Linked DNA regions of Homo sapiens. The protein of the gene in region 1 purifies or fractionates together with the protein of each later gene. This does not show direct contact. Each region holds a gene or a part of one and is shown in the gene's direction. Other genes may lie near its edges. The genes, in order: UPF3A, CASC3, LONP1, ALB, SERPINA1 and TNKS.

Region 1 (3,500 bases):
AGCCGTAATAAGGCTTTTGATCACTAAAGTAAACAAAATATGCTGAGGCTGCATGCTGCCTGGGCACTGACTCTGGGCCTCAGCATGGGGCCAAGTGGTAAGCAGGTTGCACAAGGCCTCTGCCTACCATCGGGATGACAGGTTGGAAGCAGGAGCAGGAATAGTCCAACCAGGGCACCTCAGTGTGTAATCACTGCCACTGATGTGACAAAGTGGAATATGGGAGGGAAAGAGGTTGGGAGACTCCCTCCAAGATAGTGGTGGAGCTGGAGCTGAGACTGGCTGCGGGAGGGAAAGAGGTCAGGAGATGAGCTGAGCCTGGCCGTGCTGAGCAGTGGAGGAAGGAAGCGCCAGGGGCAGGGCCGGCTGCTGTCGCTTTTCACTGCAGGCGCAGAGTGCAGGCTTGTGGGGTTGGCACACATGGGTGAGGGCAGCGTGGTTGGAGGTTCAGGGCACTGCAAGACATTTAGATTCATTCCAGGGCAACTGGAAGCCACTGGGGGAGTAGCATGGTCTGATTATTTGTCCCCGTCACTTTGGTGGTGTCACATGGGATAGACTGTGGATGCCAAGAGATGAGCGTGTGTTTTGGAGGTGGGCTGGACAGGACCGACAGACGGATAGGGTGTGGGAGGTAAGGGGACAGGAAGAATTAAGACTCCAGTGCTTGGCTTGAACAGATGGGTGGATTGTGGCACCATTATACACAAGGGAACATGAGGGTAGGACAGTATTGGGGGCAAAGTCGAGATTTCACTTAAGAACTTGATAAATTGAAGAAGAGCTAGAAGCAGCAAATTAGACGTTATTACAGGCCTCATCTCCCTGCCCCTCCCATTTCCATCTCACTTTGTTTTAAATGTCCCCTTGCAAAGGATCGGTCACTTTAGGGCTGTTTTGAGACATACCTTTTTGGGGCAGACACGTGGCTCCTGCCGGGGTGGGGAGAGGGGGGCATGTCCTGGCACCTCCCCGAGAGTCTGCTGCACAGCCAATGCTTCACAAAAGTTGGCTGAATGAATGAATGAATGTGGCTTAGAACCCACCATCCCTGATGGGAGCGATTAATTCATTCCAGGACTTGGCTGTAGAGTCTTCCTTGTTTCTGTGATTGCTGTTTCTATGTATGAAAAATTGAAACTTGGCCGGGTGCGGTGGCTCACACCTGTAATCCCAGCATTTTAGGAGGCTGAGGCGGGCAGATCATGAGGTCAAGAGATTGAGACCTTTCTGGCCAACATGGTGAAACCCCGTTTTTACTAAAAATACAAAAATTAGCTGGGCGTGGTAGCATGCGCCTGTAGTCCCAGCTACTTGGGAGGCTGAGGCAGGAGAATCGCTTGAACTCGGCAGGCGGAGGTTACAGTGAGCCAAGACCACGCCACTGCACTCCAGCCTGGCGACAAAGTAAGACTCCATCTCAAAAAAAAAAAAAAAAAAAATTTTAGGCAATTCATGGCAGATTACCTTTTTCTTTTCTAAGCTTTTGGCCTCCAGTGGATTCTTCTGCACAGGTCTGAGAAGCAAGTGTTAAATGGAAATACTAATAAGCTGTTTCTGGCAAGGACTCTGGAGTTGTTGAGTTAGTCTGGTGCATCGGCCTTTAGCATCGGCCTTTAGAGCAGACAGGCCTGGGTTCAGCTCTGAGACTTCTGTTTACTTGTGTTCTGTTGCATGGTTGTGCGTATTCTGTCTGATAAATAACATACTTTTATGATGTGTAGAACACTTTCTTATTCAGGGTCTAACGTACTTTGCCCGTGATCCCTGTGGGTGATAGGGCAGACATTTTATAGGAAGAGGAAGGTGGGCAAGCGGAGTCTGGGGTCAGCCTCCCCACACATCCAGGTGGTCTCGCCCGGCTCCTGGCTGACAAGTTCAGGCTTTCCACAGAGCAGAGCAGAACCCTGGCTGATTTGAGATAATTTGCCCATTACAAAGAGCTGACCATTTACCTGAGCCAGTGTGCTGTACTCACCCTGAGCCAGAGTTCATGGTCAGCCCAGGGACCCCTGGGGGAGTGTTCTCTGTGGCAACTGTGTCTGCCACGAAATGTGGCATTTGTACCTGCATCAGCTCTTCCCTACAACCACTGTGCCTGGGGCAGGGCTCCTGGGACAATCGGCTCTTCCCTACAACCACAGACTGTCCCTGGGGAAGGGCTTCTGGGACAGGTGCCATTTCATCTATGATGTCAGGGTGTCAGGGGTTCTCAGTTCCAAGTGATGGATCCCTGGCCAGGGCTTCTCCTATGATTCCTGATTCATTCCTGGTCCTCAGAATTCCAGAGATGATGTGTCAGTTTTCAGGTACATCCAGGGATTCTTCCCAGCCCTGTTTAGTCTGAGATCTTACAGACCCACAGAGTAGACCCCGTCTTCCCCCTTCCCATTTGTGTCCTTGTGTTGGTGGGATGTGGGGCCTGTCCATGTCAGCGCAAGTCCCTCTGAGGTGGGGCCTGTGGGGCCTCTAGCTTGCCTGGGCACCCACATCCAGGTCAGATCTGAGAGGTCGGGCATGAAAGCGAAGGACCAAGATAGAGTCTGTAGAAATGTTCATTCCCTAGTAGTTGGTGCCTTTTCTGCAATCAGCAGCGCCATATGGAGTCATTTTCTTTTTCTTTTCTTTTTTTTCTTTTTTTTTTTTTTTTGAGGCAGAGTTTCGCTGTTGTTGCCCAGGCTGGAGTGCAGTGGCGCAATCTCGGCTCACTGCAACCTCCTCCTCCCGTGTTCAAGTAGTTTTCCTGCCTCAGCCTCCCGAGTAGCTGGGATTATAGGCGCGTGCCATCACGCCCGGCTAATTTTGTATTTTTTCAGTAGAGACGGGGTTTCCTTAGGTTGGTCAGGCTGGTCTCGAATTCCCAATCTAAGGTGATCTGCCCGCCTTGGCCTCCCAAAGTGCTGAGATTACATGTGTGAGCCACCACGCCCGGCCCATGTGGAGTCATTTTCTAAACTACAATCCAGAGTTGTATGTCTTATCATTGGGATTTTATGGAGTATATATTGTAAGACATTACAAGAATCCATGTTATTTTAAAACTGTTGCTTGGAGAACGGAAAACGAAAAAGTTCTCAGAATATGCGATGTATCAAAATAAATATATGTTATTTAATGATTTAAGGCACCTACAAAAATATCATCTTGGAATATTTTAAGCCTCCCTTAAGAATCAGGAATTAGATGTCTACTATGTATGAAATTGTTGATACTTTCAAATTACTTGACCTGACAGTAATGGAATAAAAACTCCCCTGGAGACAGTGTGTAAATTTAAAAAGTAATGATATGGTTCCCGTATTTATTTTAAAGATTACATTCAAAACAAGTATTTAAAATACATCTTTCTTTAGGAGTTAAATACAATATTACAATTTTTGTGTTTTAGCTAGAAGAACCACACCTCTTTTGGAATATATTAAAAATAGAAAATTAGAAAAGCAGGTAGGTCTGGCCTTTACCTGATGAACACCCTCCCTGCTTCTGCCATTCTCATCCAG
Region 2 (3,500 bases), on another chromosome or scaffold:
TGGCGCAGTCTCTGCTCACTGCAAGCTCTGCCTCCCTGGTTCAAACGATTTTCCTGCCTCAGCCTCCCGAGCAGCTGGGATTACAGGTGCCTACCACCAAGTGCGGCTAATTCTTATATTTCTAGTAGAGATGGGGTTTTGCCATGCTGGCCAGGTTGGTCTCACACTCCTGACCGCAGGTGATCTGCCTGCATTGGCCTCCCAAAATGTGATTACAGGCGTGAGCCACTGTGCCAGGCCAAAATAGGATCTTTATTTTCTAGAAATATGGGTAAGAATATTGATTTGTTTGCTTTTCAGTTCTATGTTGTACTAAAAATTTATTGATAAATGTATTCCTAAAGAGTAGAAAATTGAAATGCAGCCAGGCACGGTGGCTCACGCCTATAAACCCAGCACTTTGGGCGGCCAAGGCAGGCAGATCACGAAATCAGGAGTTCAAGACCAGCCTGGCCAACATGGTGAAACCTGGTCTCTACTAAACATACAAAAATTAGCCAGGCGCGGTAGTGGGCGCCTATAATCCCAGCTATTTAGGAGGCTGAGGCAGGAGAATTGCTTGACCCCTGGAGGCAGAGGTTACAGTGAGCTGAGATTGTGCCACTGTATTCCAGCCTGGGTGACAGAGACTTTGTTTTGGGGTTGGGGGCAGGGGTGGGAATTAAAATGCACCGTTCAGATCTTATATGCATCGCTGACAGGGAAACTTTTTTCAGGGTGAAGAAGGTGAATACAGTGAAGAGGAAAACTCCAAAGTGGAGCTGAAATCAGAAGCTAATGATGCTGTTAATTCTTCAACAAAAGAAGAGAAGGGAGAAGAAAAGCCTGACACCAAAAGCACTGTGACTGGAGAGAGGCAAAGTGGGGACGGACAGGTTAGTACATTCCACAGTCCTCCATTTTAGAGGCTGGAATAGAGATTCTTGAGGCTTGGAAGAGTAAGGATCCCTTTATCTGTCCTCTAGGAGAGCACAGAGCCTGTGGAGAACAAAGTGGGTAAAAAGGGCCCTAAGCATTTGGATGATGATGAAGATCGGAAGAATCCAGCATACATACCTCGGAAAGGGCTCTTCTTTGAGCATGATCTTCGAGGGCAAACTCAGGAGGAGGAAGTCAGGTAAAAGCCACTTGCTGCTGCTGCTGTCTAACATGTATTTTACACATGTAGGCCAGGTACTTCGATTTGCCTGTATTTCATTTATTACAGCATTTTAAGATAAGTATTATGATTATCCTTATCGTACAAATGAGGAAAGTAGGCTTAGAATATTTGGTAACTCTTGGTGAGGCAGCTAAGATACAGACCTAGGACAGTTTGTTTCCAGAACTCATCTTCTCTTAATTATTATACTTTTGCTTTTCTTAGTCTGAGGTGTAAGGCGTCTGAGAAGTGAAATACTTGCATAGGTTGCCTTTTAGGAGAAAGGAGATGTTTCAAAGGTACTGAATGGCATGAAATGAAGTCTTTTTCTCATTTCTGTGTCTGTTATATTTGAGCCCAGCAGGCCCTGAGGTTCTGTGATTCACGCTTGCTTTGGGGAGGCCTGTTTTTTATAATCTCTTTGGGATGATGAGGAGACTACGTAAAGTTCCTATTGTCCCCCTGCCTCCCTGACCCATTTTGTTCAAGAACATCTCTACTTGGAGAATTCTGCTGACCCAAGACACTTTTCCTTCATTTTATCCAGACCCAAGGGGCGTCAGCGAAAGCTATGGAAGGATGAGGGTCGCTGGGAGCATGACAAGTTCCGGGAAGATGAGCAGGCCCCAAAGTCCCGACAGGAGCTCATTGCTCTTTATGGTTATGACATTCGCTCAGCTCATAATCCTGATGACATCAAACCTCGAAGAATCCGGAAACCCCGGTGAGGACATTTTAGAACATAAGACCAGGCTGGGTATGGTGGCTTACGGTGGCTTACACCTGGAATCCCGGCACTTTGGGAGGCTGAGGCAGGAGGATTGCTTGAGGCCAGGAGTTCAAGACCAGCCTGGGGAACATAGTGAGACCCTGTCTCCAAAAAAAAAAAGAAAAAAAGGAAAAAAAAAATAGAGTGTAGACTCTTGATATCTTTTAGAAAGAATTCTCTTTGCTTTTCTTTTTATTTATTTATTTAAGACAGAGTCTCGCTGTGTTGCCTAGGCTGGAGTGCAATGGCATGTTCTCGGCTCACTGCAACCTCCACCTCTTGGGTTGAAGTGATTCTCCTGCTTCAGCCTCCTGAGTAGCCAGGATTACAGGCGCGTACTATCGCGATCGGCTAATTTTTGTATTTTTAGTAGAAATGAGGTTTCGCTATGTTGGCCAGGCTGGTCTTGAACTCCTGGCCTCAAGTGATCTGCCCGTCTCGATCTCCCAAAGTGCTGGGATTACAGGCCTGAGCCACCGCGCGTAGCCTCCTTTTGTTAATTTCCTAACAGTTTCTTCATTCCATTTTTTGTAGATATGGGAGTCCTCCACAAAGAGATCCAAACTGGAACGGTGAGCGGCTAAACAAGTCTCATCGCCACCAGGGTCTTGGGGGCACCCTACCACCAAGGACATTTATTAACAGGAATGCTGCAGGTACCGGCCGTATGTCTGCACCCAGGAATTATTCTCGATCTGGGGGCTTCAAGGAAGGTCGTGCTGGTTTTAGGCCTGTGGAAGCTGGTGGGCAGCATGGTGGCCGGTCTGGTGAGACTGTTAAGCATGAGATTAGTTACCGGTCACGGCGCCTAGAGCAGACTTCTGTGAGGGATCCATCTCCAGAAGCAGATGCTCCAGTGCTTGGCAGTCCTGAGAAGGAAGAGGCAGCCTCAGAGCCACCAGCTGCTGCTCCTGATGCTGCACCACCACCCCCTGATAGGCCCATTGAGAAGAAATCCTATTCCCGGGCAAGAAGAACTCGAACCAAAGTTGGAGATGCAGTCAAGCTTGCAGAGGAGGTGCCCCCTCCTCCTGAAGGACTGATTCCAGCACCTCCAGTCCCAGAAACCACCCCAACTCCACCTACTAAGACTGGGACCTGGGAAGCTCCGGTGGATTCTAGTACAAGTGGACTTGAGCAAGATGTGGCACAACTAAATATAGCAGAACAGAATTGGAGTCCGGGGCAGCCTTCTTTCCTGCAACCACGGGAACTTCGAGGTAGGTATCATAGGATTGGTGGCTAGCTTTTTCCCCTTTGCATCATCAGGTTTAGGGGCATGGGACTTCTGTCTCAGGAAGGTGGTGTCTGACAAATGTCTACTTCTTTTTTTTTGAGACAGAGTCTCACTCTTTTGCCCAGGCTGGAGTGCAGTGGCGCGATTTTGGCTCACTGCAACCTTCGCCTCCCAGGTTCAAGTGATTCTCCTGCCTCAGCCTCCTGAGTAGCTGGGGTTACAGGCGCACACCACCACGCCCAGCTAATTTTTTTTTTTGTATTTTTATTTATTTATTTGTTTTGAGATGGAGTCTTGCTCTGTTGCCTAAGCTAGATGCAGTGGCACGATCTCGGCTCACTGTAATGTCCACC
Region 3 (3,500 bases), on another chromosome or scaffold:
TCACCTCACGGTCGTAGCATTTTTCAGAATTTTTTACTTTAAGACAGGGTCTCAGTCGGCCACCTAGGCTGGAGTGCAATGGCGCAATCTCAGCTCACTACAGCCTCCACCTCCAGGGCTCAAGTGATCCTCCCACCTCAGCCTCCCGAGTAGCTGGGATTACAGGCGTGCAATACCACACCGGCTAATTTTTGTATTTTAGTAGAGACAGGGTTTCACCATGTTGGCCAGGCTGGTCTTGAACTCCTGGCCTCAAGTGATCCGCCCGCTTCAGCCTCCCAAAGTGCTAGGATTACAGGCGTGAGCCACCGCGCCTGGCCCCATCTCTACAAAAAATTTTAAAATTAGAGCCAGGTGTGGCAGGTGCCTGTGGTCCCAGTTACTCAGGAGGCTAAGGCAGGAGGATCGCTTGAGCCCAGGAGGTGGAGGCTACGGTGAGCTATGATGGTGCCTTTGCACTCCAGCCTGGGTAACACAGGTAGACCCTGTCTCAAAAACAAAAGAAGATGGAAGGAACCAAAGGCTTCGTGCTCTGGGTTTCGTTTCTTTTCTCTCTGAGTCCTGGGGGAGCAGAGGGTCCCCCTTCGTCTGGGGACGCACCCACCCACCCAGCTTCCCGGAGCCAGGGCCTGATGGCAGCACCTCACCCCACAGGTGGAGGAGAAGATCAAGCAGACCCACCGTAAGTACCTGCTGCAGGAGCAGCTAAAGATCATCAAGAAGGAGCTGGGCCTGGAGAAGGACGACAAGGATGCCATCGAGGAGAAGTTCCGGGAGCGCCTGAAGGAGCTCGTGGTCCCCAAGCACGTCATGGATGTTGTGGACGAGGAGCTGAGCAAGCTGGGCCTGCTGGACAACCACTCCTCGGAGTTCAAGTGAGTGCCAGGCCCGGGGCGGCCCAGCCCTCAGGTGACCCCTCCTCAGCCCCCATCTTAGGCAGGCCAGGGGACCCAGCGGGGAGCCCCGTGGCACCTTCTTGGTGTGGCAGGTGCGGGCTGGGAGGCATCCAGCGAGTATCAGCCCTGTTCTGGGCAGGACACATCATCACCATCTCCATTCTACAAGGAAATCGAGGCTCGGGGCTGTTGAGCTGGTGGCCAGGGCCTGTGAATTGGCAGGTGGTGCCACGGATTTGAGCCCAGGGACGCCTGGCTCTAAGCCAGGGCTGCTTTTTTTTTTTTTTTTTTTTGAAATGGAGTCTCGCTCAGTTGTCCAGACTGGAGTGCAGTGGCACAATCTTGGCTCACTGCAACTTCCGCTTTGCGGGTTCAAGCAATTCTCCTGCTTCAGTCCCCCAAGTATCTGGGACTATAGGCATGCACCACCACGCCTGGTTAATTTTTTGTATTTTTAGGAGACATGGGGTTTCACCATGTTGTTCAGGCTGGTCTCGAACTCCTGACCTCAAATGATCCGGCTGCCTTGACCTGCCAAAGTGCTAGGATTACAGGCGCGAGCCACCATGCCTGGCTTTTTTTTTTTTTTAAGACAGAGTCTTGCTCTGTTGTCCAGGCTGGAGTACAGTGGTGCAATGTTGGTTCACTGCAACCTCCACCTCCCAGGTTGAAACGATTCTACTGCCTCAACTTCCTGAGTAGCTGGGATTACAGGCATGTGCCACCACACCCAGCTAATTTTTAGTATTTTTAGTAGAGATGGGGTTTTGCCATGTTGGCCAGGTTGGTCTCAAACTCCTGACCTCAAGGGATCCGCCCACCTTGCCCTCCCAAAGTGCTGGGATTACAGGCATGAGCCACCACGCCTGGCCTAAGCCAGGCCTTCTCGCCAGGACCAGGAGTCCCCATGGCTGTCTTTGCAAGGCTACCCCTGGCTTCTGTTGCCCCTTCGAGAGTCAGCCAGGAAGTGACCATGCCTTCCCGCAGCACTGGCCTTGCCCGGGGGCCACTGTCCTGAGCATGCCATGAGTCAGGGTGGCCGCCCCAGGTTTGAGGGCCTCAGGTACCTCTGAGATCCTTTCAGCCATGCCCATGTCCAGCCAGGACAGAACCCACCTGGCCACTTCCCATGCAGCATGCTCTGTTTTCAGCCCAGGAACCAGTTGTCACGCCAGGGCAGCTTCTAGGCAGAAGTCCCCGGGGCAGGGCTGGGCAGGCCGTAGGACAGCGCTTAGAGGGAAGGCATGAGTTTCTTTCCTGGCTGCTGGCCCAGGACCCCGCCTCAGATTTGAATGTCACGGTCGCCGGAGTCTCTCCCCCAGGGCCCTGAGAGGCACTGGTTGCGCGCGAAGGCTGTGGCTTCCCCTCCCAGCACGCCCCGATTTCGGTGAGTGGCCTGTGAGCTCCCATGGCTGCTCCGACGGTGCCACAACTTAGTGCCTTACACAATGCCGAGCCCTGAGATCCCGCTGTGGGCCGGGCCCGTCCCTCCCAGAGGCTCCAGAGGAGAATCCGTTTCCTGCCTTTCCCAGTATCTGGAGGCGCCCGCATCCCTCGGCTCGGGGCCCCTTCCTCCTTCACAGCCACAGCGCAGCCTCTTCCAGTCAGTCTCTCACCTCCCACCGCCTGTCGTGAGGACCTGGTGAGGAACCTGGGCCCCCTGGGTCACCCAGAATGCTCTCCTGTCTCGGGGACCTTCACTCAGCCCCATCTGCAGTTCCCTGCTGCCATGTGAGAGGCCTGTGCCGCCGCCTCCTGTGGGGGGAGAACGTAGATGTTTTCGGGGTTCTTCTGTCTCCCAGCGAGTGCCTCAGCTGCCCTTGGGCTGGTGGAAGTACCTGCTCAGACCGGGCCTTGTCCTGCAGAAGCAGATAGCTCCTTCCCCCAGGAGCTGAGGGGGTCTGTAAGGCGGGTTCTGTCCTCAGGTCCTGGGAAGTCACGGGGGACAAGCCCTCAGTACCTGCGTGTCACCAAGATGCCTGCAGCAGGCTGCCAGCTACCTCTCCCACCCAGAATGCTCTCCGCAAAGTGTCACTGCCTGTGTCACTTCCACAGTGACTTCATGTGTCTCTAAACTCCAGCATCCGTGTGGCCCAGCTGGCCTGTCCCGGTGCGTCTCGTATGCCCGTTGGGTGGCAGTGCGCCCTGACGGTGTCTGCTCGTGGGGCCGCCTGGCCCTTCCTCGGAAGCCGTCCTCCTCTTCATCCTCTTCCCCAATCCTGCCGTGTGCTCTTGCAGCCCTCACTGACTTGCTCCTGGCCCATAGTGGCCGCTGCTCACTGCTGCACGGCTCCCAACTTGGGGACCAATATGGAGTTGCCCTCCCAACCTTCAGCGTCACTCTCCCGGCAGGGGACCTGGCCTCCATTTCCCCACCTGCCCTGGGTCAGGCCTTGTCCCATTTTCTAAGCCTCGTCCCCTCTGTGGTTCTGCTCACTCAGCCCTGGGCAGAAGCCAGTGCCGTCTTGGCTCTCCTGATGAGTCAGCAGTGGACCTCCGGCCATCTCCTCCTTCCTGCACTGGGTGCTTTGGACAGGGCAGTTTGTAAATTTTTTTTTTTTTTTTTTTTTGAGATGGAGTCTCACTCTGTTGCCCAGGCTGGAG
Region 4 (3,500 bases), on another chromosome or scaffold:
ATGTGTGTGTGCATGCACGTGTGTGTATGTGTGATATTGGCAGTCAAGGCCCCGAGGATGATAATTTTTTTTTTTTTTTTGAGACGGAGTCTCGCTTTGTTGTCCAGGCTGGAGTGCAGTGGTGCCATCTCGGCTCACTGCAACCTCCGCCTCCCAGGTTCAAGCCATTCTCCTGCCTCAGCCTCCCAAGTAGCTGGGACTACAGGTGCATGCCACCATGCCTGGCTAATTTTTTGTATTTTTAGTAGAAAATTTTCAGCTTCACCTCTTTTGAATTTCTGCTCTCCTGCCTGTTCTTTAGCTATCCGTGGTCCTGAACCAGTTATGTGTGTTGCATGAGAAAACGCCAGTAAGTGACAGAGTCACCAAATGCTGCACAGAATCCTTGGTGAACAGGCGACCATGCTTTTCAGCTCTGGAAGTCGATGAAACATACGTTCCCAAAGAGTTTAATGCTGAAACATTCACCTTCCATGCAGATATATGCACACTTTCTGAGAAGGAGAGACAAATCAAGAAACAAACGTGAGGAGTATTTCATTACTGCATGTGTTTGTAGTCTTGATAGCAAGAACTGTCAATTCAAGCTAGCAACTTTTTCCTGAAGTAGTGATTATATTTCTTAGAGGAAAGTATTGGAGTGTTGCCCTTATTATGCTGATAAGAGTACCCAGAATAAAATGAATAACTTTTTAAAGACAAAATCCTCTGTTATAATATTGCTAAAATTATTCAGAGTAATATTGTGGATTAAAGCCACAATAGAATAACATGTTAGGCCATATTCAGTAGAAAAAGATGAACAATTAACTGATAAATTTGTGCACATGGCAAATTAGTTAATGGGAACCATAGGAGAATTTATTTCTAGATGTAAATAATTATTTTAAGTTTGCCCTATGGTGGCCCCACACATGAGACAAACCCCCAAGATGTGACTTTTGAGAATGAGACTTGGATAAAAAACATGTAGAAATGCAAGCCCTGAAGCTCAACTCCCTATTGCTATCACAGGGGTTATAATTGCATAAAATTTAGCTATAGAAAGTTGCTGTCATCTCTTGTGGGCTGTAATCATCGTCTAGGCTTAAGAGTAATATTGCAAAACCTGTCATGCCCACACAAATCTCTCCCTGGCATTGTTGTCTTTGCAGATGTCAGTGAAAGAGAACCAGCAGCTCCCATGAGTTTGGATAGCCTTATTTTCTATAGCCTCCCCACTATTAGCTTTGAAGGGAGCAAAGTTTAAGAACCAAATATAAAGTTTCTCATCTTTATAGATGAGAAAAATTTTAAATAAAGTCCAAGATAATTAAATTTTTAAGGATCATTTTTAGCTCTTTAATAGCAATAAAACTCAATATGACATAATATGGCACTTCCAAAATCTGAATAATATATAATTGCAATGACATACTTCTTTTCAGAGATTTACTGAAAAGAAATTTGTTGACACTACATAACGTGATGAGTGGTTTATACTGATTGTTTCAGTTGGTCTTCCCACCAACTCCATGAAAGTGGATTTTATTATCCTCATCATGCAGATGAGAATATTGAGACTTATAGCGGTATGCCTGAGCCCCAAAGTACTCAGAGTTGCCTGGCTCCAAGATTTATAATCTTAAATGATGGGACTACCATCCTTACTCTCTCCATTTTTCTATACGTGAGTAATGTTTTTTCTGTTTTTTTTTTTTCTTTTTCCATTCAAACTCAGTGCACTTGTTGAGCTCGTGAAACACAAGCCCAAGGCAACAAAAGAGCAACTGAAAGCTGTTATGGATGATTTCGCAGCTTTTGTAGAGAAGTGCTGCAAGGCTGACGATAAGGAGACCTGCTTTGCCGAGGAGGTACTACAGTTCTCTTCATTTTAATATGTCCAGTATTCATTTTTGCATGTTTGGTTAGGCTAGGGCTTAGGGATTTATATATCAAAGGAGGCTTTGTACATGTGGGACAGGGATCTTATTTTACAAACAATTGTCTTACAAAATGAATAAAACAGCACTTTGTTTTTATCTCCTGCTCTATTGTGCCATACTGTTAAATGTTTATAATGCCTGTTCTGTTTCCAAATTTGTGATGCTTATGAATATTAATAGGAATATTTGTAAGGCCTGAAATATTTTGATCATGAAATCAAAACATTAATTTATTTAAACATTTACTTGAAATGTGGTGGTTTGTGATTTAGTTGATTTTATAGGCTAGTGGGAGAATTTACATTCAAATGTCTAAATCACTTAAAATTGCCCTTTATGGCCTGACAGTAACTTTTTTTTATTCATTTGGGGACAACTATGTCCGTGAGCTTCCGTCCAGAGATTATAGTAGTAAATTGTAATTAAAGGATATGATGCACGTGAAATCACTTTGCAATCATCAATAGCTTCATAAATGTTAATTTTGTATCCTAATAGTAATGCTAATATTTTCCTAACATCTGTCATGTCTTTGTGTTCAGGGTAAAAAACTTGTTGCTGCAAGTCAAGCTGCCTTAGGCTTATAACATCACATTTAAAAGCATCTCAGGTAACTATATTTTGAATTTTTTAAAAAAGTAACTATAATAGTTATTATTAAAATAGCAAAGATTGACCATTTCCAAGAGCCATATAGACCAGCACCGACCACTATTCTAAACTATTTATGTATGTAAATATTAGCTTTTAAAATTCTCAAAATAGTTGCTGAGTTGGGAACCACTATTATTTCTATTTTGTAGATGAGAAAATGAAGATAAACATCAAAGCATAGATTAAGTAATTTTCCAAAGGGTCAAAATTCAAAATTGAAACCAAAGTTTCAGTGTTGCCCATTGTCCTGTTCTGACTTATATGATGCGGTACACAGAGCCATCCAAGTAAGTGATGGCTCAGCAGTGGAATACTCTGGGAATTAGGCTGAACCACATGAAAGAGTGCTTTATAGGGCAAAAACAGTTGAATATCAGTGATTTCACATGGTTCAACCTAATAGTTCAACTCATCCTTTCCATTGGAGAATATGATGGATCTACCTTCTGTGAACTTTATAGTGAAGAATCTGCTATTACATTTCCAATTTGTCAACATGCTGAGCTTTAATAGGACTTATCTTCTTATGACAACATTTATTGGTGTGTCCCCTTGCCTAGCCCAACAGAAGAATTCAGCAGCCGTAAGTCTAGGACAGGCTTAAATTGTTTTCACTGGTGTAAATTGCAGAAAGATGATCTAAGTAATTTGGCATTTATTTTAATAGGTTTGAAAAACACATGCCATTTTACAAATAAGACTTATATTTGTCCTTTTGTTTTTCAGCCTACCATGAGAATAAGAGAAAGAAAATGAAGATCAAAAGCTTATTCATCTGTTTTTCTTTTTCGTTGGTGTAAAGCCAACACCCTGTCTAAAAAACATAAATTTCTTTAATCATTTTGCCTCTTTTCTCTGTGCTTCAATTAATAAAAAATGGAAAGAATCTAATAGAGTGGTACAGCACTGTTATTTTTCAAA
Region 5 (4,046 bases), on another chromosome or scaffold:
GTAAGTGGGTTCCCTGGTCTGAATGTGTGTGCTGGAGGATCCTGTGGGTCACTCGCCTGGTAGAGCCCCAAGGTGGAGGCATAAATGGGACTGGTGAATGACAGAAGGGGCAAAAATGCACTCATCCATTCACTCTGCAAGTATCTACGGCACGTACGCCAGCTCCCAAGCAGGTTTGCGGGTTGCACAGCGGGCGATGCAATCTGATTTAGGCTTTTAAAGGGATTGCAATCAAGTGGGGCCCCACTAGCCTCAACCCTGTACCTCCCCTCCCCTCCACCCCCAGCAGTCTCCAAAGGCCTCCAACAACCCCAGAGTGGGGGCCATGTATCCAAAGAAACTCCAAGCTGTATACGGATCACACTGGTTTTCCAGGAGCAAAAACAGAAACAGGCCTGAGGCTGGTCAAAATTGAACCTCCTCCTGCTCTGAGCAGCCTGGGGGGCAGACTAAGCAGAGGGCTGTGCAGACCCACATAAAGAGCCTACTGTGTGCCAGGCACTTCACCCGAGGCACTTCACAAGCATGCTTGGGAATGAAACTTCCAACTCTTTGGGATGCAGGTGAAACAGTTCCTGGTTCAGAGAGGTGAAGCGGCCTGCCTGAGGCAGCACAGCTCTTCTTTACAGATGTGCTTCCCCACCTCTACCCTGTCTCACGGCCCCCCATGCCAGCCTGACGGTTGTGTCTGCCTCAGTCATGCTCCATTTTTCCATCGGGACCATCAAGAGGGTGTTTGTGTCTAAGGCTGACTGGGTAACTTTGGATGAGCGGTCTCTCCGCTCTGAGCCTGTTTCCTCATCTGTCAAATGGGCTCTAACCCACTCTGATCTCCCAGGGCGGCAGTAAGTCTTCAGCATCAGGCATTTTGGGGTGACTCAGTAAATGGTAGATCTTGCTACCAGTGGAACAGCCACTAAGGATTCTGCAGTGAGAGCAGAGGGCCAGCTAAGTGGTACTCTCCCAGAGACTGTCTGACTCACGCCACCCCCTCCACCTTGGACACAGGACGCTGTGGTTTCTGAGCCAGGTACAATGACTCCTTTCGGTAAGTGCAGTGGAAGCTGTACACTGCCCAGGCAAAGCGTCCGGGCAGCGTAGGCGGGCGACTCAGATCCCAGCCAGTGGACTTAGCCCCTGTTTGCTCCTCCGATAACTGGGGTGACCTTGGTTAATATTCACCAGCAGCCTCCCCCGTTGCCCCTCTGGATCCACTGCTTAAATACGGACGAGGACAGGGCCCTGTCTCCTCAGCTTCAGGCACCACCACTGACCTGGGACAGTGAATCGTAAGTATGCCTTTCACTGCGAGAGGTTCTGGAGAGGCTTCTGAGCTCCCCATGGCCCAGGCAGGCAGCAGGTCTGGGGCAGGAGGGGGGTTGTGGAGTGGGTATCCGCCTGCTGAGGTGCAGGGCAGATGGAGAGGCTGCAGCTGAGCTCCTATTTTCATAATAACAGCAGCCATGAGGGTTGTGTCCTGTTTCCCAGTCCTGCCCGGTCCCCCCTCGGTACCTCCTGGTGGATACACTGGTTCCTGTAAGCAGAAGTGGATGAGGGTGTCTAGGTCTGCAGTCCTGGCACCCCAGGATGGGGGACACCAGCCAAGATACAGCAACAGCAACAAAGCGCAGCCATTTCTTTCTGTTTGCACAGCTCCTCTGTCTGTCGGGGGCTCCTGTCTGTTGTCTCCTATAAGCCTCACCACCTCTCCTACTGCTTGGGCATGCATCTTTCTCCCCTTCTATAGATGAGGAGGTTAAGGTCCAGAGAGGGGTGGGGAGGAACGCCGGCTCACATTCTCCATCCCCTCCAGATATGACCAGGAACAGACCTGTGCCAGGCCTCAGCCTTACATCAAAATGGGCCTCCCCATGCACCGTGGACCTCTGGGCCCTCCTGTCCCAGTGGAGGACAGGAAGCTGTGAGGGGCACTGTCACCCAGGGCTCAAGCTGGCATTCCTGAATAATCGCTCTGCACCAGGCCACGGCTAAGCTCAGTGCGTGATTAAGCCTCATAACCCTCCAAGGCAGTTACTAGTGTGATTCCCATTTTACAGATGAGGAAGATGGGGACAGAGAGGTGAATAACTGGCCCCAAATCACACACCATCCATAATTCGGGCTCAGGCACCTGGCTCCAGTCCCCAAACTCTTGAACCTGGCCCTAGTGTCACTGTTTCTCTTGGGTCTCAGGCGCTGGATGGGGAACAGGAAACCTGGGCTGGACTTGAGGCCTCTCTGATGCTCGGTGACTTCAGACAGTTGCTCAACCTCTCTGTTCTCTTGGGCAAAACATGATAACCTTTGACTTCTGTCCCCTCCCCTCACCCCACCCGACCTTGATCTCTGAAGTGTTGGAAGGATTTAATTTTTCCTGCACTGAGTTTTGGAGACAGGTCAAAAAGATGACCAAGGCCAAGGTGGCCAGTTTCCTATAGAACGCCTCTAAAAGACCTGCAGCAATAGCAGCAAGAACTGGTATTCTCGAGAACTTGCTGCGCAGCAGGCACTTCTTGGCATTTTATGTGTATTTAATTTCACAATAGCTCTATGACAAAGTCCACCTTTCTCATCTCCAGGAAACTGAGGTTCAGAGAGGTTAAGTAACTTGTCCAAGGTCACACAGCTAATAGCAAGTTGACGTGGAGCAATCTGGCCTCAGAGCCTTTAATTTTAGCCACAGACTGATGCTCCCCTCTTCATTTAGCCAGGCTGCCTCTGAAGTTTTCTGATTCAAGACTTCTGGCTTCAGCTTTGTACACAGAGATGATTCAATGTCAGGTTTTGGAGTGAAATCTGTTTAATCCCAGACAAAACATTTAGGATTACATCTCAGTTTTGTAAGCAAGTAGCTCTGTGATTTTTAGTGAGTTATTTAATGCTCTTTGGGGCTCAATTTTTCTATCTATAAAATAGGGCTAATAATTTGCACCTTATAGGGTAAGCTTTGAGGACAGATTAGATGATACGGTGCCTGTAAAACACCAGGTGTTAGTAAGTGTGGCAATGATGGTGACGCTGAGGCTGATGTTTGCTTAGCATAGGGTTAGGCAGCTGGCAGGCAGTAAACAGTTGGATAATTTAATGGAAAATTTGCCAAACTCAGATGCTGTTCACTGCTGAGCAGGAGCCCCTTCCTGCTGAAATGGTCCTGGGGAGTGCAGCAGGCTCTCCGGGAAGAAATCTACCATCTCTCGGGCAGGAGCTCAACCTGTGTGCAGGTACAGGGAGGGCTTCCTCACCTGGTGCCCACTCATGCATTACGTCAGTTATTCCTCATCCCTGTCCAAAGGATTCTTTTCTCCATTGTACAGCTATGAAGCTAGTGCTCAAAGAAGTGAAGTCATTTACCCCAGGCCCCCTGCCAGTAAGTGACAGGGCCTGGTCACACTTGGGTTTATTTATTGCCCAGTTCAACAGGTTGTTTGACCATAGGCGAGATTCTCTTCCCTGCACCCTGCCGGGTTGCTCTTGGTCCCTTATTTTATGCTCCCGGGTAGAAATGGTGTGAGATTAGGCAGGGAGTGGCTCGCTTCCCTGTCCCTGGCCCCGCAAAGAGTGCTCCCACCTGCCCCGATCCCAGAAATGTCACCATGAAGCCTTCATTCTTTTGGTTTAAAGCTTGGCCTCAGTGTCCGTACACCATGGGGTACTTGGCCAGATGGCGACTTTCTCCTCTCCAGTCGCCCTCCCAGGCACTAGCTTTTAGGAGTGCAGGGTGCTGCCTCTGATAGAAGGGCCAGGAGAGAGCAGGTTTTGGAGTCCTGATGTTATAAGGAACAGCTTGGGAGGCATAATGAACCCAACATGATGCTTGAGACCAATGTCACAGCCCAATTCTGACATTCATCATCTGAGATCTGAGGACACAGCTGTCTCAGTTCATGATCTGAGTGCTGGGAAAGCCAAGACTTGTTCCAGCTTTGTCACTGACTTGCTGTATAGCCTCAACAAGGCCCTGACCCTCTCTGGGCTTCAAACTCTTCACTGTGAAAGGAGGAAACCAGAGTAGGTGATGTGACACCAGGAAAGATGGATGGGTGTGG
Region 6 (3,500 bases), on another chromosome or scaffold:
ATGAAAATGGAGATACAGAGGAGTGAATTGTTAAATAAAAACAGGTATACACAATGGTGCTTTACCAGATGATCTCATTCTTAACTCTTTGTATCCTTTTCTTTTTTTTCAGCATGTTGACATAGCGGCTTTATTGATAAAATACAACACGTGTGTAAATGCAACAGATAAGTGGGCGTTTACTCCCCTCCATGAAGCAGCCCAGAAAGGAAGGACGCAGCTGTGCGCCCTCCTCCTAGCGCATGGTGCAGACCCCACCATGAAGAACCAGGAAGGCCAGACGCCTCTGGATCTGGCAACAGTAAGTCCTCATTTCAGATACTGATTATTGTTCCTTCTACTTTCACAGATGACATCAGATTCTCGGGTTCACCAGCTTACTTTTAGTCGTGTTTATTTCACTTAGAACAGAGATCTTCTGAAAATTTTTGAAGTTCACACTTTTTCTATGAAAATATAATTTAAAACTCTTAAGACAAACTAAACAGTAAGTTAATTTAATTTTTTGCCATTCTTAGCCTGCTGGGAAAACATGGATCTTAAGAAAACATGTTTTTAGAGTGTACCCTCAAAGAATTATATTTAGTAAAATATCTTGTACCTTCTATATTTGGCATGTTATTGTAGAGCAACTAATGTTCATGATAATTTACCTAAGTCTGTGAGATAGTCAAAGAAAAATTAACTCTGGGCAGTATTATTTAACTGCAAAGTTAAGCACTGCATCATCTTCCGTGAACTTTCTGAAAACCAGGGAGTTACTGTATAGTCACAGTAATTTCTAATTTTTAAGCCAGAAATGTTTTTTCAAGTTATGTTCTGTTTCATTTATTGATTGCTGCGTAACAAACTGTTTCAAAACACCCAGTGGCTTAAAATAATAATGACTTATTATTTCTTATGATTCTGTATGTTGGCTAGGAGATTCTTCTGGTCTTACCTGGGGTCACTTGTGCAACTGCATATAGCTGGTGGCTGGGGCAGAAACATAAAGACGGCTTCATTCATATGCCTGGGGCCTTGACAGATACAACTAGAAGGCAGGGGCCTCTCTAGTCCCATGTGGCATCTCATCATTAAGTGGTCTTGTTAGAATTTCTTCACAGAATAATTGTATCTCAAGAGGGAGAAAGCAGAGGCTGTCATTGTTCTTTAAGGCTAAGCCTGGAACTGACATGCTGTCACTTCTGCCACATTCTGTTGTGCAAAGCAAGTCATGAAGTCAGCTCAGGTTCAAGGGATAGGAAAACAGATTCCACCTTCTTTGAAAGGAGAAGCAAAAATTTCGTGGCCATCTTTAATCAGCCACAGTCTTCCCTGTGAATACAAATTAAATCTATTTTTCCCACATTCAAATTACACTCACCTGCCACGTGCTCCCCCCACCAACAGGGGGCAGATAGTCATCACTGGGTCCTTAGCAATTCTAAAATTCAGCCAGACACATGTTATCAGGGCCATCTACTCTGGAGTTAGGGAATGATCCCTGATTAGGGCCCAGTTCTGCTCCCAGGGAGTGGTTCACTGTGGCTGTCTTTTTTTTTCCTTTTTTTTCTTTTCTTTTTTTTTTTTTTCCCCCTTAAGACACAGTCTGGCTATGTCACCCAAGCCAGAGTGCAGTGGCGTGATCATGGCTCACCACAACCCCAACCTCTTAGATTCAAGCCATCCTCGTATCTCAATCTCCTGAGTAGCTGGGACTACAGGCACATGCCACTATGCCTGGCTATTTTTTTTGTTTTTACTTTTTGTAGAGACAGGGTCTTGCTATGTTGCCCAGGTTAGTCTTGAACTTCTGGGCTCCTCCCTCAGCCTCCTTCCTCAGCCTCCCAAAGTGCTGGGATTACAGGTGTGAACCACTGTACATAGCCTCTGTAGCTCTTGGCCATGCCCTCTGAATTATCCTTCTCTTTTCATAAGAAATGGATCATATTTACAGCCAAGTGGCTTTCTCAACCTGTTCCCTGCTCCTAGAAATTTTCGGGACCCTGAGCCTTTTATCATTTTGATCTACCTGTCCCTTTTAGTCCAAACTAGTACAACTCTTCCTTTGTAAACTTTTGGATTTCCCATCAAATTACACACCACTCCATCAGCCAAAAGCTCCACCCACAAATCTTTTCAAGACAGGTCCCTCTCTAACATGGAATCCAAGTAAAGGTGCAGTGGGACAATGCCCATAAGATCCTTTGAAGCTCTTTCATCTAGCCAAGGGAATTCACAAGGTACCACCTTAGAGGTTTTTTAAAGATTTTGAGGTAATATATCTGTACCTCTAGTTGATTTTTATTCTGAGGCCATGTTTTCCTGTCAGCACGCTGGATTTGACCTTTGGCCTGAGGCTGTGCCTTACTTGAAGAAACTTTTGCTGATGGAGAGGCTGGGAATGGTGAATAATTTTGTTTTCTAAGCTAGCAAATGTTAGGTGAATACATTTCCTTAAAGAGAACTGGACAGTTCCTTTCTCTCTTCCTGTACCTTATCATGGGCAGATAAACACACCAGTCCAGTTGACAAGGCAGAATTTGTTCTGGAAATTTCCTTAGCCAAATTTACAAATTTATTTAGGTTTACGTTCTACCTTCCGTAAGACCTCCTGTGGCAGCGTTGCCAAACTTTCTGCTACACAGCATTAGTCCCCTTTCTCTCGCCTTCAGTAGCACTTGCCTATCTATCTTCCATTCACAGCCTCCCTCAGCAATAACCAGGCCACCCTTCACGCCTCCAACCAAAGCCACATGTCCACCAGCACCCCACTTCCAGGTACTGGTGTGCATTTCATTTCTCTATTGCTGCCCACTAAGCCACCCCCAAACCCACTGAGGGTTTAACGTGACAATTTATTATTTCTCACACGTCTGGGAGTTGACTGGGCTCAGCTGGGTGGTTCTGGTTTTGCAGTTACCTGCACCTGGGAACTCAGCAGAGGCTGGAGCTTCCAAGATGGCCTTTCATCCCGCAGGGCTCTCCCTGCATAGGATCTCACCACTCAGTAGTCTAGCCCAAACTTCTGTACAACATGGCAGATGGCTTCTAAGAGAGTAAAAGTAGACACTGCCAATCCACTTAAAGCCTGGCTCAAAAGCCTCAGAATGTCACTTCTTCTCCATTCTATTGGTCAAGACAACTCACAGGGCAAACCACATTCGGCGGGTAGGGGGCAGAAATTCAAGGGGAGGCATACATGACGGGAGGAAGGAATTGATGGGTGGCTGTCTTTGGAGACTATCTCCCGCATACTCGAAAAGCAGTTGCATCTAATACTTAAAAACTGAAAAGTTTATGAATAAATGAGCTAAATTAAAGTGTCATCCCTTTGAAATTTCACCAGATGTTAATTGTACATGAAATTATTAAGTGTGAAGTAAATAACCAGATTATAGCTGTTTAAACGTAAACAAAATATAGTAAACACAGAAATTTTTTCTAAAGAAGGGTGACAGTTAACACTGAAAGTGCTTTTTTTTAAATGAAAGAAGAAATATCTTTAAAAATTACAT

Evidence for each region.
Region 2: the proteins of UPF3A (region 1) and CASC3 purify together in Homo sapiens (co-immunoprecipitation; 3 studies listed by BioGRID and IntAct, with this or other methods). This does not show direct contact.
Region 3: the proteins of UPF3A (region 1) and LONP1 purify together in Homo sapiens (affinity purification with mass spectrometry; one large-scale study listed by BioGRID and IntAct). This does not show direct contact.
Region 4: the proteins of UPF3A (region 1) and ALB purify together in Homo sapiens (affinity purification with mass spectrometry; 2 studies listed by BioGRID and IntAct, with this or other methods). This does not show direct contact.
Region 5: the proteins of UPF3A (region 1) and SERPINA1 purify together in Homo sapiens (affinity purification with mass spectrometry; one large-scale study listed by BioGRID and IntAct). This does not show direct contact.
Region 6: the proteins of UPF3A (region 1) and TNKS purify together in Homo sapiens (affinity purification with mass spectrometry; one large-scale study listed by BioGRID and IntAct). This does not show direct contact.

Annotation. Positions count from the first base shown.
Region 1 is NC_000013.11:114,288,101-114,291,600, forward strand, and holds part of UPF3A (regulator of nonsense transcripts 3A), read left to right. Parts: intron 1-3,388; coding exon 3,389-3,444; intron 3,445-3,500. UniProt on the Homo sapiens protein: Involved in nonsense-mediated decay (NMD) of mRNAs containing premature stop codons by associating with the nuclear exon junction complex (EJC) and serving as link between the EJC core and NMD machinery.
Region 2 is NC_000017.11:40,161,037-40,164,536, forward strand, and holds part of CASC3 (protein CASC3), read left to right. Parts: intron 1-716; coding exon 717-875; intron 876-896; exon of another isoform or gene 897-965; coding exon 966-1,117; intron 1,118-1,688; coding exon 1,689-1,865; intron 1,866-2,444; coding exon 2,445-3,130; intron 3,131-3,500. UniProt on the Homo sapiens protein: Required for pre-mRNA splicing as component of the spliceosome. Core component of the splicing-dependent multiprotein exon junction complex (EJC) deposited at splice junctions on mRNAs.
Region 3 is NC_000019.10:5,703,147-5,706,646, reverse strand, and holds part of LONP1 (lon protease homolog, mitochondrial isoform 1 precursor), read left to right. Parts: intron 1-654; coding exon 655-875; intron 876-2,428; coding exon of another isoform or gene 2,429-2,531; exon of another isoform or gene 2,532-2,916; intron 2,917-3,500. UniProt on the Homo sapiens protein: ATP-dependent serine protease that mediates the selective degradation of misfolded, unassembled or oxidatively damaged polypeptides as well as certain short-lived regulatory proteins in the mitochondrial matrix.
Region 4 is NC_000004.12:73,417,787-73,421,286, forward strand, and holds part of ALB (albumin preproprotein), read left to right. Parts: intron 1-301; coding exon 302-525; intron 526-1,720; coding exon 1,721-1,853; intron 1,854-2,467; coding exon 2,468-2,512; 3' UTR 2,513-2,535; intron 2,536-3,305; 3' UTR 3,306-3,500. UniProt on the Homo sapiens protein: Binds water, Ca(2+), Na(+), K(+), fatty acids, hormones, bilirubin and drugs. Its main function is the regulation of the colloidal osmotic pressure of blood. Major zinc transporter in plasma, typically binds about 80% of all plasma zinc.
Region 5 is NC_000014.9:94,385,803-94,389,848, reverse strand, and holds the start of SERPINA1 (alpha-1-antitrypsin precursor), read left to right. Parts: upstream 1-1,246; 5' UTR 1,247-1,289; intron 1,290-4,046.
Region 6 is NC_000008.11:9,747,912-9,751,411, forward strand, and holds part of TNKS (poly [ADP-ribose] polymerase tankyrase-1), read left to right. Parts: intron 1-112; coding exon 113-301; intron 302-3,500.